2 separate regions of the Homo sapiens genome follow, and region 2 is linked to region 1. A link means that fine-mapping ties the variant in region 1 to the expression of a gene that starts in the linked region. Tissue or cell type: whole blood. Region 1 holds a variant in brackets; the other region holds the start of a gene. All regions are shown on one strand. Distances are from middle to middle.

Evidence for each region. PIP is the estimated chance that this variant, and not a neighbour inherited with it, causes the effect.
Region 2: LGALS8 starts here. The variant in region 1 is fine-mapped to the expression of LGALS8 in whole blood (TOPMed, PIP above 0.99).

The regions. Positions count from the first base shown.
Region 1 is chr1:236,664,056-236,672,162 of GRCh38, forward strand. No RefSeq gene overlaps it. Among named protein-coding and RNA genes, the nearest start is that of ACTN2, 18 kb to the right of the region's middle. The variant G/A (reference allele first, on the strand shown) is at 4,579.
Region 2 is chr1:236,520,203-236,528,309 of GRCh38, forward strand. It overlaps LGALS8 (galectin 8), which reads left to right and starts at 3,780. Exons shown (of 10, transcript NM_201544.4): 1 at 3,780-3,859; 2 at 5,766-5,913. The coding sequence starts at 5,869. LGALS8-AS1 (LGALS8 antisense RNA 1) reads right to left here and starts at 4,306. Exons shown (of 1, transcript NR_034040.1): 1 at 2,867-4,306. RefSeq lists a silencer at 4,073-4,122.

The DNA.
Region 1 (8,107 bases):
AAATGGGGAAGTTGGATGGCTCATGAAGCAAAAATGAAAGGAAAGGTTTCAGTTTCCATTCTATGATTTCAAATCAGTCTCAGCTATATTTCTGCATGGTCCTACCATCTGGAAAGAGGCTTCTAGGAAACCAGGCACAATTGTAAAGGGGTGAGTTTGCCTCTCTTGCTATTTGTGGTATTTTCCACGCTTCCTGAGTAGGCAGAACTTCTCAGCATCTCATACCTCCCCACCCTCTTCCTCTGGTACCCTCAGCAGATGCCCTTTCCTCCCTGGTGGCTCTAAAAGCCATCGAACATGAGTGTCTCATCTCCCTGAGACCAAACTCCCAAGCATCCTTGCACACATCTCCATCTTCCCTCCTCCCTCAGTGAGCCCCTGTCTGTCCCCTTCTCATGCTCTCTGATCCCATTCCTTTCTTCCTTTCATAGATACCTTGATCCATATCTCCCATTTCTCCCTCAGATCATTACTTCCTCCTTTTCTGGATTCTTTCCCTCAACATTCACATTTGCTCTAATATGCTCCAATTTTCTGTTTTCCTCACTTCTTTCTTGTCTTTTTATAGATAAAGGAAGTATTTTTTTCCTCGATCCAATTTTTCCCCACTTCTACTTTGAAAGCCATAAATTCTATTTCTATTCTTTTGGTAGTTAACATGGGAATTTTAACATGACATTTAAGATATCAACTTCTAAAGTCATAGACATCTTTATCCTCCTCCAGGACAATAACGAGGACCTAAAGACCACTGCAACACTGAGCACCCGTTCCTGACTTATGCTATTATTGTCATGCATTTTCTGATTGTTCTTGATGGTACAATTTTTTTTTTAGAGAGACAAAGTCTTACTCTGCCACCCAGGCTGGAATGCAGTGGCATGATCATAGCCCATTGCAGCTTTGAACTTCTGGGTGCAAGTGATCCTCTTTACTTAGCCTCCTGCTTAGCTAGGACTACAGGTACATGCCACCAAACCTGGCTGATTCTTAAAAAGTTTTTGTACAGATGGGGTCTCACTATGTTGCACAGGCTGGTCTTGAACTCCTGGCCTCAAGCAGTCCTCCCTTCTTGGCCTCCCAATTTTGGGATTGCAGGTGTGAGCCACCATACCTGGCCTAGATTTTTGTACATCAATCTTGCATCTTGAAACTTTATAAGAGTCATTTATTAGTTTTAGTTGCTTTTTTGTTGTTTCCATCAGATTCTCTACATAATCAAGTCATTTTTATATAAGGACACTTTTACTTCTTCCTTTCCAATGTGGATGACTTTTTACTTATTTTTCTTGCCTTTTTACACTGGATACTTCCTCCAGTACAATGTTGAATAGAACTAATAACCATGAAATCCTTGTTTTTTTCCGATCTTAGTTAACAGAAGGATTCAATATGTCACCAATGAGTATGATGTTTTCTGTTTTATTCTCTAGCAGGTTGAATAAGTTCCTCTATATTCCTAGCTCACGAAGACTTTATTTTTATTTTTATTTTTTATCAGGAATGGATTTTGGATTGTCTTTTCTACAACTATCAAGATAATTATACGGTTTTTCTTTTTTCTTTTTTTTTTTTTTTGAGATGGAGTCTCACTATTGTCACCCAGGCTGGAGTGGCATGTTCTCGGCTCACTACAACCTCTGCATCCTGGGTTCAAGCGATTCTCTTGCCTTAGCCTCCCAAGTAGCTGGGATTACAGGCACCCGCCGCCATGCTTGGCTAATTTTTGTATTTTTAGTAGAGATGAGTTTTCACCATGTTGGCCAGGCTGGTCTCAAACTTCCAACCTCAAGTGATCTGCCCGCCTCGGCCTCCCAAAGTGCTGGGATTACAGGCGTGAGCCACCACGCCCGGCCTATGGTTGTTCTTTATTAGCTTTTTGATATGGTGAATTACATGATTGTTTTAGAACATCAAGCCAGCCTTTTATACTTGAATAAACCCCACTTGGTCATGATGTATTCTTCTTTTTGCTCAACATCAAATTTTGAGCAATTTGATGTTGTTTTCTTCATGTTTCTTCTGCTTCATCTTCACAGAATGTATTCACTCTATGGGTCTTTATATTACTGTATTTGATTTACACAATTTATTTTAGAATATTTTGCATCTAAGTTCATAAAAAGATATTTTCTTATAGTTTTTGTTCTTGTAATGACTTTGTCTGATTTTGGTATGAGTTACGCTGGCCCTACCAGATGAATTAAGAAGCATTCTTTCTTGTACAACTTCTGGAAGTTTATATAGAAATGATGTCAGCCGGGCATGGTGGCTCACGCCTGTAATCCCAACACTTTGGGAGGCTGAGGCGGGTGGATCACCTGAGGTTGGGAGTTCGAGACCAGCCTGATCAACATGGAGAAACCCCGTCTTTACTAAAAATACAAAATTATCTGGGCGTGGTGGCACATGCCTGTAATCCCAGCTACTCGGGAGGCTGAGGCAGGAAAATTGCTTGAACCCGGGAGCTGGAGGTTGCAGTGAGCCGAGATCGCGCCATTGCACTCCAGCCTGGGCAACAAGAGCGAAATTCCATCTCAAAAAAAAGAAAAGTAAAAAGAAATGATGTCTCTGGTATAATTTATCAGTTAAGCCATCTGAGTCTAGAGCTTTCTTTGTGGTAAGGTTTTAAACTGCACTTTCAATTTCCTCAATCAGGCTATTTAGAGTGTCTGTTCTTGAGTAAAATCTAGTAATTGATATCTTTTAAGGAATTTGCCCATTTTATCTAAGTGGTTCAAAATTTTTGACATACAGTTTTTAAAAAATATTCCTTGATTATCGTTCTAATATTCATAGAATCTCGCATTTGAAACTCAGGAAAGCAGTGCAAAAATGTTGATACTCTGGCTACTGCTATTGATGTGAATAATAAAGTCCTTTGCCTCTGACCCAGGAGTCTCATGTCTTTTACCAGCATCCATGAAACTGGAGCAGTCCAGATTATTAACTTGCAAGTAGGGTAAATACTTTATGTACTTTAGTTCTTGATGTCCTTTACTTTGAACCTTTGTGTAACTTTATATATAAAGTGTATTTGCATAGGCAGCATACAGTTGGGTCTTACTTCTTTGTCCAGTCTGATAATCTGTTTTGTAAGTGGGGAGTTTAGACCATTTACATCTAATGCGATTATTAACATGGTTAGGTTTAAGTCAATCATCTTCCAAATGTTCCCTATTTGTTTCATCTATTCTTTTTCCTATTTTTTTCCTGCTTTCTTTTGGATCAATTGAATATTTTTAATGATTTTATCCCCTTTGTTGGTGTTTTAGCCCTAACTCCTTGATTTGTTATCTTAATAATTGTTTTAGGGATTGTAGTATATATCTTTAACTTATCAGAGGTCTATGTTGAAATTATATTTTATTACTTCACATGCAATATACAAGCCTTACAATAATATTCTTTAATTTCTCTTTTTCTGAACTCTGTGCTAGTGCTGCCATACATTTTACTTTTATATATTATAAATCTCATATTACATTGTTATTATTTTTCTAAACTGTTCATTCATTTTAAGAGATATTTCAACAATAAAAAAAATCTTATGTTCACTCATGTTATTACTATTTCTAACGCTCTTCTTTCTTTCGTAGAGATCCCTATTTCGATGGGGCATCATTTTCCTTCAACTTGAAGGATGTTAACATTTCTTTCTAGTGATGAGTTCTTTCACTTTTGTATGTCTGAAAAAGTATTTACCTTTATTTTGAGAGACACTTTCACTGGGTATAGGATTCCTGGTTTACAATGTTCTTTCAGTACTTTAAGATGTTATTTCACTGCCTTTTGGCTTGCATTGCTTCTAATGAGAACTCTGTTATAATTCTTATCTGTTCATAACCTGTCTTTCTTCTCTGTGTATAACACATCTTTTTTCCCCTGGCTACTTTTTTTTTTTTTTTGGAGACAAAGTCTCACTTTGCCACCCAGGCTGGAGTGCAATGGTGCAATCTCAGCTCACTGCAATCTCCGCCTCCTGGGTTCAAGCGATTCTCCTGCCTCATCCTCCTGAGTAGCTGGGATTACAGGCACGAGCCACCCCGCCCAGCTGATTTTTGTGTTTTTAGTAGAGACGGGGTTTCACCATGTTGGCCAGGCTGGCCTTGAACTCCTGACCTCAAGTGATCCTCCTGCCTCGGCCTCCCAAAGTGCTGGGATTACAGGCGTGAGCCACCATGCCCGGCCTCCCCTAGCTATTCTTAAGATTTTTTTCTTTGTCCCAAATTTTGAGCAATTTGATGTTGTTTTCTTCATGTTTCTTCTGCTTCATCTTCACAGAATATATTCACTCTATGGGTCTTCATTAAATTGGGGGAAATTTCAGTCACTATTTCTTCAAATGTTTTTCCTGTGCTCTCCTCTAACTCTTCTTTCTCCAGGATTCCAGTTACTTGGTCTATTAGGCTGCTTACTGTTCCACCCTCACTGATGTTCTGTTTCTGTTTTTTAATTCTCTTTTCTCTCTTTTTAAAATTTTTAATAATTTCTCTTGGCCGGGCGTGGTGGCTCAAGCCTGTAATCCCAGCACTTTGGGAGGTCGAGGCGGGCGGATCACAAGGTCAGGAGATCGAG[G/A]CCATCCTGGCTAATACGGTGAAACCCCGTCTCTACTAAAAATACAAAAAATTAGCCAGGCGTGGTGGCGGGCGCCTGTAGTCCCAGCTACTCGGGAGGCTGAGGCAGGAGAATGGCGTGAACCCGGGAGGCGGAGCTTGCAGTGAGCCGAGATCGGGCCACTGCACTCCAGCCTGGGCCACAGAGCAAGACTCCGTCTTAAAAAGAAAATTTTTAATAACTTCTCTTGCTAAGTATTCAAATTCACTAATCTTTCTGATGACTATTTAAAGCTAAACTGTTCGCTTGAGATTTTTGGAAGTATGATTTTGGACTGTAAGGCCAAACAAATGTGAGGGCCAGCTTACGTTTATAAATTCTTAGAGGAGGATTTTTTTCCCTTTCGCTCAGTGTCATGATTTAAGATGGAGCCTTCTTTCTCCCTTCCTTCCTTTCTTTCTTTCCTTCCTTCCTTCCTTCCTTACTTCCTTCCTTCCTTCCTTCCTTCCTCCTTTCCTTTCCCTTTCTCTCTCTGTCTTTCTTTCTTTCTTTCCTTCTTTCCTTCTTTCTTTCTTTTCTGAGACGGAGCCTTGCTCTGTCACCCAGGCTGGAGTGCAGTGGCGTGATCTCAGCTCACTGCAATCTCTGCCTCCCAGGTTCAAGCAATTCTCCTGCCTCAGCCTCCTGAGTAGCTGGGATTACAGGCACACGCCACCAAGCCTGACAAATTTTTGTATTTTTAGTAGAGACGGGGTTTCACCACATTGGCCAGGCTGATCTTGAACTCCTGACCTCAGGTGATCCACCCACCTCAGCCTCCCAAAGTGCTGGGATTACAGGTGTGAGCCACCACACCTGGCCGAGTCTTTTTATTTATTTATTGTATTGAACTTTACGAAATCTCGGCTCCCACTAGAAAAGTTTTAACATTGCTCAGGTGACAGAATGAATGAGGGAGGATGGAAGAGACCTTCCCATTATTTCATAGACCTCAGTATGAAGGCAATTACCTCTCTCTATAAACAAAATCCATCCTATCAACTTCTCAAAGGCATTTTGTTCTATTATTGGTAGAGTCAGGACTATTCCCTTTCTTAAAAGTTGCTTCTCTATGGTATTAAACATTTACAATGTTATTTTGCATTCATTATTTTATTTGTTCTTCGTAATACCCCTGGTGAAGTATGCAAGGCAAGAATTATTCACATTTTACAGCTGGGGAAGCTGAAGCTTGAAGAATAATTTGTCTAACATCACGCTGGTAATAAGTGATAATGCCAGATCTTGAATATAAATTCTGAAGTCCTGCCGATGTGAGACGTGAGTTTGATCCTTATGGTTAATAGTTTGCTTATATATGCCTCCAATGTATATTTTTAAGCTTAAAACATTAACTGGTTAATTAAAGGTGTTATGATCGATACTACAGCACAGACTGTTTAAACACTGTGCTTCTCAAACTTTAATGTGCATACAAGCCAGTGATGATCTTGTTAAAATGCAGGTTCTGATTTGCGAGGTCTCAAGGCTCTGCTGTGTAAAGCTCCCAGGCGAGGCTGCAGGTCTGCAGACAGAAGCATTTGAAATTGCAAGGATTTAGCAGATTTTTGCCAAATAAACAATGACTTATAATGTGAGGGGGAGTAAAGTGTGATTTAAAATGTCCTGGACTAGGGATCAGGTTATGTTGGCTCTAATCTTAAGAAAACACTTGCAGATGCTAGAACTTGGAGTGACGTTAGCGGTTTTCTAACCCAAGTTTTTCATTTTCTACATGTATGGAAATCAAGCCCGGTTGGACGTGATGGCTCATGCCAGTAATCCCAGCACTTTGGGAGGCCGAGGGGGGTTGATTACCTGAGGTCAGGAGTTTGAGACCAGCCTGGCCAACATGGCAAAACCCCCATCTCCACTAAAAATACAAAAAAATTAGCTGGGTGTGGTGGCGGGCACCTGTAATTCCAGCTACTCAAGAGGCTGAGGCAGGAGAATCGCTTGAACCTGGGAGGCGGAGGTTGTAGTGAGCCAGGATCATGGCACTGTACTCCAGTCTGGGCAACAAAAGTGAAATTCCGCCTCAAAAAAAAAAAAAGAAGGAAATCAAGCTCAGAGTGATAAGGAAAGCTGCCTGGAGTCACATAATTAGGGAACTGGAACCTGGGTCCACGTGGCTCTAATATCAGTTCTTTTTCACGAAGCACACTGCCTCTCTAGACAGTAGTGATAATTAGAGCTGGGGCAGACTCCTTAATCTCTTAGCTTCAATATCCTTATCTTTAAAATGAGAGGCCTGGATATGAACACTAAGATTCCCCTATCACTAATACTCGCTAATAGTTAATCTCCCTTATTTCTCACATTGGAGAAGAGTAGAGGGAGAAAAAATGAGTCATCTGCTGCTATAGAACTTTAGACCAAAGACAATTAACCCAAGCACAAAGTAGTGTTTAAAATAAAATGTCAAGTGCAGATGTACCCTGTCCATAGTTAGAAGAGAGTCCTCTGGTTCTCGGACCCTATCAAGTGAGAAAATTGTATTGCCTTTTGCCTCATAACACTTGTATTATTTTCAGGTAAGTTGCCTTAAGGACTAAATTACCGGGGGAGACTTGGAACTTGGCTTACTTTCTGTGACTAAGAGACAACAAAACTCATCATCGAATCCCTTTATCATTGCCAAGTCTTGCAGAAGGAACCTTTAATAACCCTTCAGTGGTGGGCTTCCTACACTTCCTCCACCACCTGACTTTTTTCTGTCTAGATCTTCAGGGTCCATTATGAAGCACTGGAAAAGAGACACTCAGTGTAATTGATCTTTGAAAGATGTGCTTGGAGATTTCTCTTGGATAAAGAAAATAAAAGTTTCTAACAATTTTATGATTTTTCAGATAGCAAGTGTATTTGTATGAATGTTCAGACAAAGATAATGAAAGCACATTACTCAATATAATGTACAAAATTAAGAAAAAGAAGATTAAAATAGAATGGCAAAATTTCAGGCTTTCTGCCAAAATGAAACAAACTAGCCTTTTGATGCATTCGGTAGATCCATACATCCTGATTACAATTTGAATAAACAATGGCTATTTCTTCTTTCTAGAAATGGGATCTTGCTAACTTGCCCAGGCTGGACTCAAACCCGGCCATAATAACCATTTTTAAATCTCCATTTAAATCTTGATGAAGGTTTGTCCTACCAATAGGCTTTGTCCCAAGCATAGAACCTTATCTATATAACATATCTTTATACCTATATAACCATACCTATATAACATACCTGAGTAGCAGATTCTCAAAAGGCAATTTCATCTATGCCAGGGCTGATGCCCTCCAAATCTCTCCTCCAACCAAATCACTCTCCTTGCCCTAGATCCACAAGTTGGGTCTGACCATTGAACGTGTCCCCAAACTGAATTCACCATCTTCCCTATGACTTCTGCATACTCCTATACCTGTTCCTTTCTCTCTATTGTCTCAAGGAGTGGTACATCCACCCACTGGCCAAGTCAGGAACCTAAGAGGAAACCTAGATTCCTTTCTCTATCTTCCT
Region 2 (8,107 bases), 140 kb before region 1:
TGCCTCGGCTTCCCAAAGTGCTGGGATTACAGGAGTGAGCCAACGTGCCTGGTCAAAATTTTTGTTTTCGTAATTTTAAGTATGTGTGTAGTAAGTCTCAATGGAAATGTAATTCTTATGGCAGGTCACTTGAAAAAAAAGAAGTCTAAAAGTCACCAATGTAGTATCTTCTCTTTAAAAAAAAAAAAAAAACAACAGGAGAAAACCTGAATCTGCCCTTTGCTCCACTCCTTCCTCAGCTATAATGCTGCTTCTCCATTCCTCCTCACAGCAAACCTTTCTGAAATCTTTATAGTCATGGTTTCCACCAGTTCTTCACCTCCCATTTCTCAACACACTTCAGAGTCAGAGTCAGCAATGACATCCATGTTCCTAAGCCCATTGCTTACTTCCGTCCTCCTTGGCCTCTCAGCACACTTGGCACACAGGCTGTTTCTCTTTCTTTGGCATCTGTGACACCACTCTCAGCAAATTCCCCTGGTTGTCCCTTCTCAGTCTCATTTATTGGCGTTGTCTTATCTCCCCAGGGCTGTCCGAGGTGATTTTCTCCCACTACTCTCCTAGGTGGTGCCATCCAATCTCATGATGTCATATCATTCTTCCCTCATGCTTCAGCCATACTGGTTGGTGGCCTTTGTTTCCTGAACACATTTAATGCATTCTCAAGACCCTCAGGGACTTTGCAGCAGCTGCTCGCTAAGGCTGGAATGCTCTTCCCCACCATCTTCATATGGCTGTTTCCTTTCTTTCACTCACCAGCAGCTTAAACTTTGACTCCTCTGAGAGACTTTCCTTGTCACCCAACTAAGGTTGCCACTCAGGTGCTCCCAATTTAATCTTCTCTAAAACACATCACTGTATGTGTCCTCAACTAGAGTATAAGCTTCCTCGAAACAAGAACAATCAAAACTCCTTGCCCTCATGGAGTTTATAGTCTTATGATGGGTGAAGTAACATAAAATAAAAAGGCACCTTATATAGTATATTAGCATGACAAATGTTAGCCAGAAATAAAGCAAGGAAGAGTTGCTAGGGAGTGTGTATGAGTGTGTTTTGGGAGAGTGTTTGCAATTTTAAATATTGGTGGTCAGGAAGGGCCCCACTGAGAACTGACATTTGAGTAGACTTGAAAAGGGAAAAGGAAATATTGAGTAAAGATTTTAGGATGGGAGTGTGACAGGCCTGCTAGGAGAATAGCAAAGTCGCTGTGGCTGCTGCAGAAAAAGTGAGAAGGAAAGTAGTAGGAGATGAAATCACAGTGTGTGAGGATTCGGGCAGATCAGGAAGTGCTCGTGTAAGAACTGGATCTTTACTCAAAGAATGAGCAAAAATTAGTAGACGGTTGGCCGGATGCAGTGGCTCACACCTGCAATCCCAGGTTACAGGAGGCCGAGGCGGGCGGATCACTTGAGGTCAGGAGTTCAAGACTAGCCTGGGCAACATGGTGAAACCTCATCTCTACTAAAAATACAAAACTTAGCTGGGCATGGTGGCGCGCACCTGTAGTCCCAGCTACTCAGGAGGCTGAGGCACATGAATCACTTGAACACGGTAGGCAGAGGCTGCAGTGAGCTGAGAATGTAACACTGTACTCCACTCCAACCTGGGCAACAGAGTGAGACTGCCTCAAAAAAAAAAAAAAGTAGGTTTTAGTAAGGGATTAACATGATCTGAATTATGTTTTGTCATGACTTCTCTGGCTGTTGTGTTGAGACTACATTGCAGAGGGGCAAGGGCAAATATAGGGAGACCGATTAGGATACTGCAGTAATAATGTAAGAGATGTGGGACTCTATCTAGAAGGGCCCATGAGGTCCTTTGCATGCTAGTATTCTTTACTGCTGTGCCTGGCCATGATAGGCATTCAGTGAATATTTGCTTATTTAAAATAACACACTGGGCTAATTGAACAACAGTGCCAAATGAGGGAGATATTTCTAGGAATAAGTTCTTAGGATTTATGAACATTTTAATCCAGATTTTCTTTGTTAACTCTGCTCTCTGGCCCTTTCACTCAGCCCCGTTTGCACCTAAATATGACTTACAAAAGAAACACAGCATTTATGTGTACTTATTTCAACTTATTTTAGCTTTGTAAAGAAGTACAAGGTTGACTCAGGGCCCAGCTTGGTGTCTCATGCCTGTAATTTCAGCATTGTGGGAGGCCAAGGCAGGAAGATATTGTGAGCCCAGGAGTTTGAGACCAGCCTGGGCAACACAGTGGACCCTGTCTCTACAAAAAAAAATTTTTAAATTAGCTGGGCATAGTGGTGTGCGTCTATAGTCCCAGCTACTCCTGGGGCTGAGGTGGGAGGATCACTTGAGGGAAACCCTGTCTCAAAGTGGCGGGGCTGGGGGGAGACTCAGGCAGAATTGTGAAGATATTCAATTGCTCCTGACTTTATCAATAATCTAACATTTCAACCTAACATTGATATCTATTTTATGCAAAGCATTACACTATGCACTGGAGACTGTATAAGACAAGTTCCTTTTCTCAAACTACAGTCGAGTTGGATAGATAAAACACACAACACATACCAAAAGACAGCTATAAATCCAAGGCAGTGTATGTCAAGGGTAAATTCACCTATTCAGATTGGATCTTGAGAAGTGCATCAGGCTTGGAAAATGGGTAAGGAGGAGAGAAAAGCAACAGTGAATCAGAACATGAGTTCCCAGTTATGGGACTTGTAATGAATTCCTCAATTAAAACAAAAAATAATGAAAACAAAAGCCAGGGAGGAGAAAGCCCACGTTAATGACACTAAAATATATCTTTCCAAACAAATGTGGATAAAAGCCAAGTAGAGAAGATGAGAACTTTGAGGTCCCTAACAGAAAATAAACAGTAAGCAGCCAGCCATTCCAAGTGGCTGACATGACTTTGTTTAACTTTATTTGTATTTCTGGCTGGTGTGTTTACAGCCAATAGGTCAAACTATCAGTCAGTGTAGGGCCCTGAGAAGTCGGGTATTTAAGAGCATCTAATAGGCACAGAATTGTGCTCCATACTGCTTAAACTGTTCCCTAAGTGTCCAATTTGGAGAAAACACCCACACGCAGGATAACTGGCGAGTGACGCGGAGTGGCTGCGAGTCCAAGTTATCACTAACGGATGGGGAGCTTGGGCTGGGCACAGTCCAGCGTACTGAACCCTTCCCCCACCGTTTCACCTGCATACAGAGGTGTGTACTGTCAAAAAGCAGCGCCTCCAAGTCTCTTCTGGCACTGTCTGGACTTGGATCCGAGGCAGACGAGGAAGCTGAGAAAACCCTGGCGTTGACCCCGTGGACCTGGGCGCCCCGGGAAGGCCAGCGCTTGGTCCAGGCAGGCGGGGCCTGTGCGGTGACCACCCTGGTCCTGAAAAGTCCCAGCCCCGAGCGCCCTCCCTCCTAGACCTGGAGGCCTGGAACAGCCAGGTGGACGTCGGCCCACCTTTCTTTTCTTTCCTTCCCATTTTCCTACCACCTCCCACCCCACTCCGCCTTCCGGGCAAAGGCAGCCAGATCCACCCAGGACACATTCTTTGTCCTTATCCCTCTGTGCTCGTCCCACAGCAAGCCAGTCGCGGTCCAAGGCTCCAGAGGCTGTGCAGGAGGCCGAGCTGGGTGGCGATCAGCGGCGGGTCCCTGTCCAAAACCCAGCAGAGCCGCCAGGGACGCCCCAGACACAGAAGGCGGGGCGCGGGGAGGGTGGGGAGACCACAGCAGTGAGGCGCGCGAGCCGGGAAGTGAACGAGGACTGACTCCTGTCGCTTCCCGTAGCCGCCCACGGACGCCAGAGCCGGGAACCCTGACGGCACTTAGCTGCTGACAAACAACCTGCTCCGTGGAGCGCCTGAAACACCAGTCTTTGGGTGAGTCGCGCGACCCCCGGCCTCGGGTGGCGGGGCAGTCGCTAGAGGCGTGGCTGCTCTGAGGGTCTCGCCAGTGGAGGATGGCATTCGGATGTCACGGCTCCTAAATCACCATTTGATGGGTGGGACAGTGTCCAGTCCACCCCGACCCGCCGGTCCTCACCGCGGCAGAGCCGGGGCTGGGTGGCGGGGACGCTGCCTCTGCAGGCGAGGCGCTCCGGGGCATAAGGGATTATCAGGAGTCGCGGCCTTTCTTGGACATCCCTGGCTGGGGTCAGGCTGTTTGCCCTGGGGTGTCTCCTCGCTGCAAACCCACCCCACCTGGGCTGCTTTCTCACCTGTTCCCTCCTAGCCTGAGGCCGAGCGCCACCTCCAAGTGGAGGAATCTGGGGAAGTTTCCTTCCCGGAATTTGTAGTGACAGTGGAGTGACCTCCATTGCGTTCCCTGCCTCTAACACGCTCTTTAGGATGCCGAGTCATTTGACTGCAGTGTTAAACATTGCAAAGCGCAAGTCATGTGACTTCCTTTGACCGTACGTGAAACTTAAGTGATGGCTGCTTGTGATGCATACGAAGTGTTCATGCTGGCGGGACCTGTCCCTGGGGATACTTCGGGGGTTGCGTGATTTAATGCAAGCAGATGGCTTAAATTGGGTCACTGGCTTGTTATTATACATGTGTATGGCAACTCGGCATCCATTCTTTTTGCTCTTGTTCTTACTTCCTGAATTGAGTCACGGAGCCAGAGTTTTGAGGTTTTGACTAACGAATTAAGTTAATGACATGGGGCTATATTTAGGTGGTAAACCAAGAGGGATACAGTTTTTTTTCTTAATAAAGAAAAAGTGATAGATTTGATCGGTGTGTATTGTTGGTGTGCAGTATAATGACAGAATTGCTGGAAGTAAAATACAGGAAGCTCTGGTTTCATTTCCCCTTTAGTTCTGCTTAAAGTCGAGTTTTTCCTGGAGCTATTAAATGTAGTGTAGTGTCCATGAGTGCTTTTATCTTAAAAAATGTGGCTGATGCTTTCCAACACTCCCCTGCCCTGTGATTATTATTTTTTTAAGCAACAGAGAAAACCGTATCTTAATAGTATTAAAAGTATTGGATTTTTCCCTACTTTGATTTGTTTAAATTGGAGGAGGAAGAGCAATTCTTTCTATTCACAATAATAATAGCTAACATAGCGCTTACTCTTTCGCTGTTTTATTAACTCAATCCTCAGAACAAACCAATGATGTGAATACTGTAATTCTCATTTTATGGAAATGAAAATCTAAATGAATACCTCTGGTAATTGTACGGGACTGTTTGATTAGTATTTACCATTAATTAATTAAATTTTTTTTTTTTTTTGAGATGGAGTCTCGTTCTGTTGCCCAGGCTGGAGTGCAGTGGCACAATCTCGGCTCACTTCAACCTCCGTCTCCCAGGTTCAAGCAATTCTCCTGTCTCAGCCTCCTGAGTAGCTGGGACTACAGGTGCATGCCACTACGTCTGGCTAATTTTTGTATTTTTAGTAGGGATGGGATTTCACCATATTGGTCAGGCTGGTCTCTAACTCCTGAACCTCAGGTGATCCACCCGCCTTGGCCTCCCAAAGTGCTGGGATTACAGGTGTGAGCCACCATGCCTGGCCTATTTTAGTATTTTTAATAATAAATTCCATGTTAGAAATTTTCTACTGATGTATTTTTTAAGTCAATATTTCCTACACTCACAATCCAAAATTATTTAGTATATGAGCACACTGGTAAGAATGGGAGGCAGATCGTTGATTGTAATAATATTCTATTATTTGGTAAATATCAGTAACATAATATATAATTTAAATTTTAAAATAGGATATGAAGAAAAATGCTACATGCTTACTTTTCTTTTCCTCTATTTTTACTTTACACAGGGCCAGTGCCTCAGTTTCAATCCAGGTAACCTTTAAATGAAACTTGCCTAAAATCTTAGGTCATACACAGAAGAGACTCCAATCGACAAGAAGCTGGAAAAGAATGATGTTGTCCTTAAACAACCTACAGAATATCATCTATAACCCGGTAACTGATTTCTATAAGATAACTTTTTACCTATGCCAGGACAGATCCAATAGAATATTAATTATCCATTGGGAGACAGGGCAAGAATAAAAGCCAGTGAACATATTTAAAGCACCTACTATGTAATAGAGATGGTGGTGGGTGCTGATTACAAAACAGCTCTTGTCCTCTAGTGGAGGAAGAAGTCACAATGATAATATGACGTGATGAAACAGTGTTATGAACAGGGAACGTCTGGGTAGAGTGGAGGGAATGCCAACTTTTGGTGATGGGAGGAGGCTCAGCTAATCATAAATTGTAGTTTTTAAAGGAAAATGGATTTCTTACTCTACAAGTTTTTCATTTTCTTTTTTAATTAGAGCTGTCCATGAGAAGTTAATGTCTCGATCTTTCCCTCAGCCTTTCAAATACTGCTTGGCCCTTGAGCAGGGAAAATGTCAAAAGCCAATGGGGAGATGGAGAGTGTGAAGTAGTAAGGGTCTCGTGCAGTTCAGGCAGGTCCTAGAATCCCTGAATGACTGTAATTGCTGGAAATTGCCCTGTAATCCTGAGCAGTAAAGAGCTTGTTTTAGTTTTATGTGGTGGTGAGAATCTTTAGGAATGTCTAGTTTCCACGTATCTGAAGCTGAATCCTGAATCGAGGTCTGAAAAAGGACAGCCACTTTTTTAGTAAACCGCCTAGAAGATTCTTGGGCAAAAGGAAGGGTGAGAATCCTTAAAATGAGGCCCTAAACCAGTTTTGTTAGTGTGTGTGGGTTCAAGTTTTTGTCATTTACTTTATAGCTGTATTTCCTTTTTCCCTAAGTTTTAATGTCATTGTGTAAGAATGAGGTATCGCTGCTGTATCAAGCAAAGTCAGTTTTAGGAGAAATAGCCTTTCAGTGGTAGTAAGTTTAAAAAAGATGACTTCCTGAAGCGGAAGCTTGTGAGACATTTAAGATGACTTTGCGCATGTTAGAGTTAAAAACATCCCAAGGTTGTAAACTGATTTCCTGCAAAGATCTTAACAACAACAACAACAACAAACTAGGCTGCCTGCCACGGGTGTCTGAAGTATCATCTTGGCTCAAGCTGGGAGAATGGATAAAGGTTACACTGTTCATTTCTGCCCTTCACACAGAAAAGAAGATAATTTTATAGGTAAAATTCGTGCATATCTTGATTCTAGCATACTGCTGATTCCTGTAGTTTCTGGGGTCAGTACTCTCAACTATTGAGGTGGAACAAAAATAAGTAGACTTCATTTCTTGAGGAAGGGGATCTGGAGAAGTAGTTCTGCGCTAGAGCAGAAAATGCCTTCAGTCTTGTGGCATGGGCTGGATGCTGTTCTGAGGATAATGCATTTCCAAGGGAGATATTTTTGGCAAATAGCTTTTTTTTCTTTCTTTTCAAAATTCTCTGTTTTATTATCAGTTCTCACAAAAGAGTCGGAAAGGTTAGAGGTAGACTGAACTGAATGGCAAAAACATTTTGCGCTCTCTTTACGTTTCACTGCTGTAAAATATTTATAGTATAAAGGGCCTGTATTGCACTGAATTTCTCTCATTTGTAGCTAGTTGCCCTTTCAATGTTCCAAAAAAAAAGGCTGTAAATAACTTATTTTATTTATTCAATTAATTTTTTTTTTTTAATTTTTTGAGATATAGTTTCCCTCTGGTCACCCAGGCTGGAGTGAAATGATGCAATCTCGGCTTACTGCAATTTCTGCCTCCCGGGTTCAAGCAATTCTAGTGCCTCAGCCTCCTGAGTAGCTGGGACTGCAGGCACGTGCTACCATGCCCGGCTAATTTTTGTGTTTTTAGTAGATATGGGGTTTCACAGTGTTGGCCAGCCTAGTCTCAAACTCCTGACCTCAGGTGATGTGCCCACCTTGACCTCCAAAAGTGCTGGGATTACAGGCGTGAGGCACCATGCCTGGCCAACTTAGTTATTTAAAGATAATCAATTAGTATATTTTATAAGCTAGACTTAGGAAAACGGTTTTCAGCTGGGCATGGTGGCTCACACCTGTAATCCCAGCACTTTGGGAGGCCGAGGCAGGTGGATCACGAGGTCAGGAGTTCAAGACCAGCCTGGCCAAGATGGCGAAACTCCGTCTCTACTTAAAAATACAAAAATTAGCCAGGCGTGATGGCAGCCTCCTGTAATCCCAGCTACTCGGGAGGCTGAGGCAAGAGAATCACTTGAACCTGGG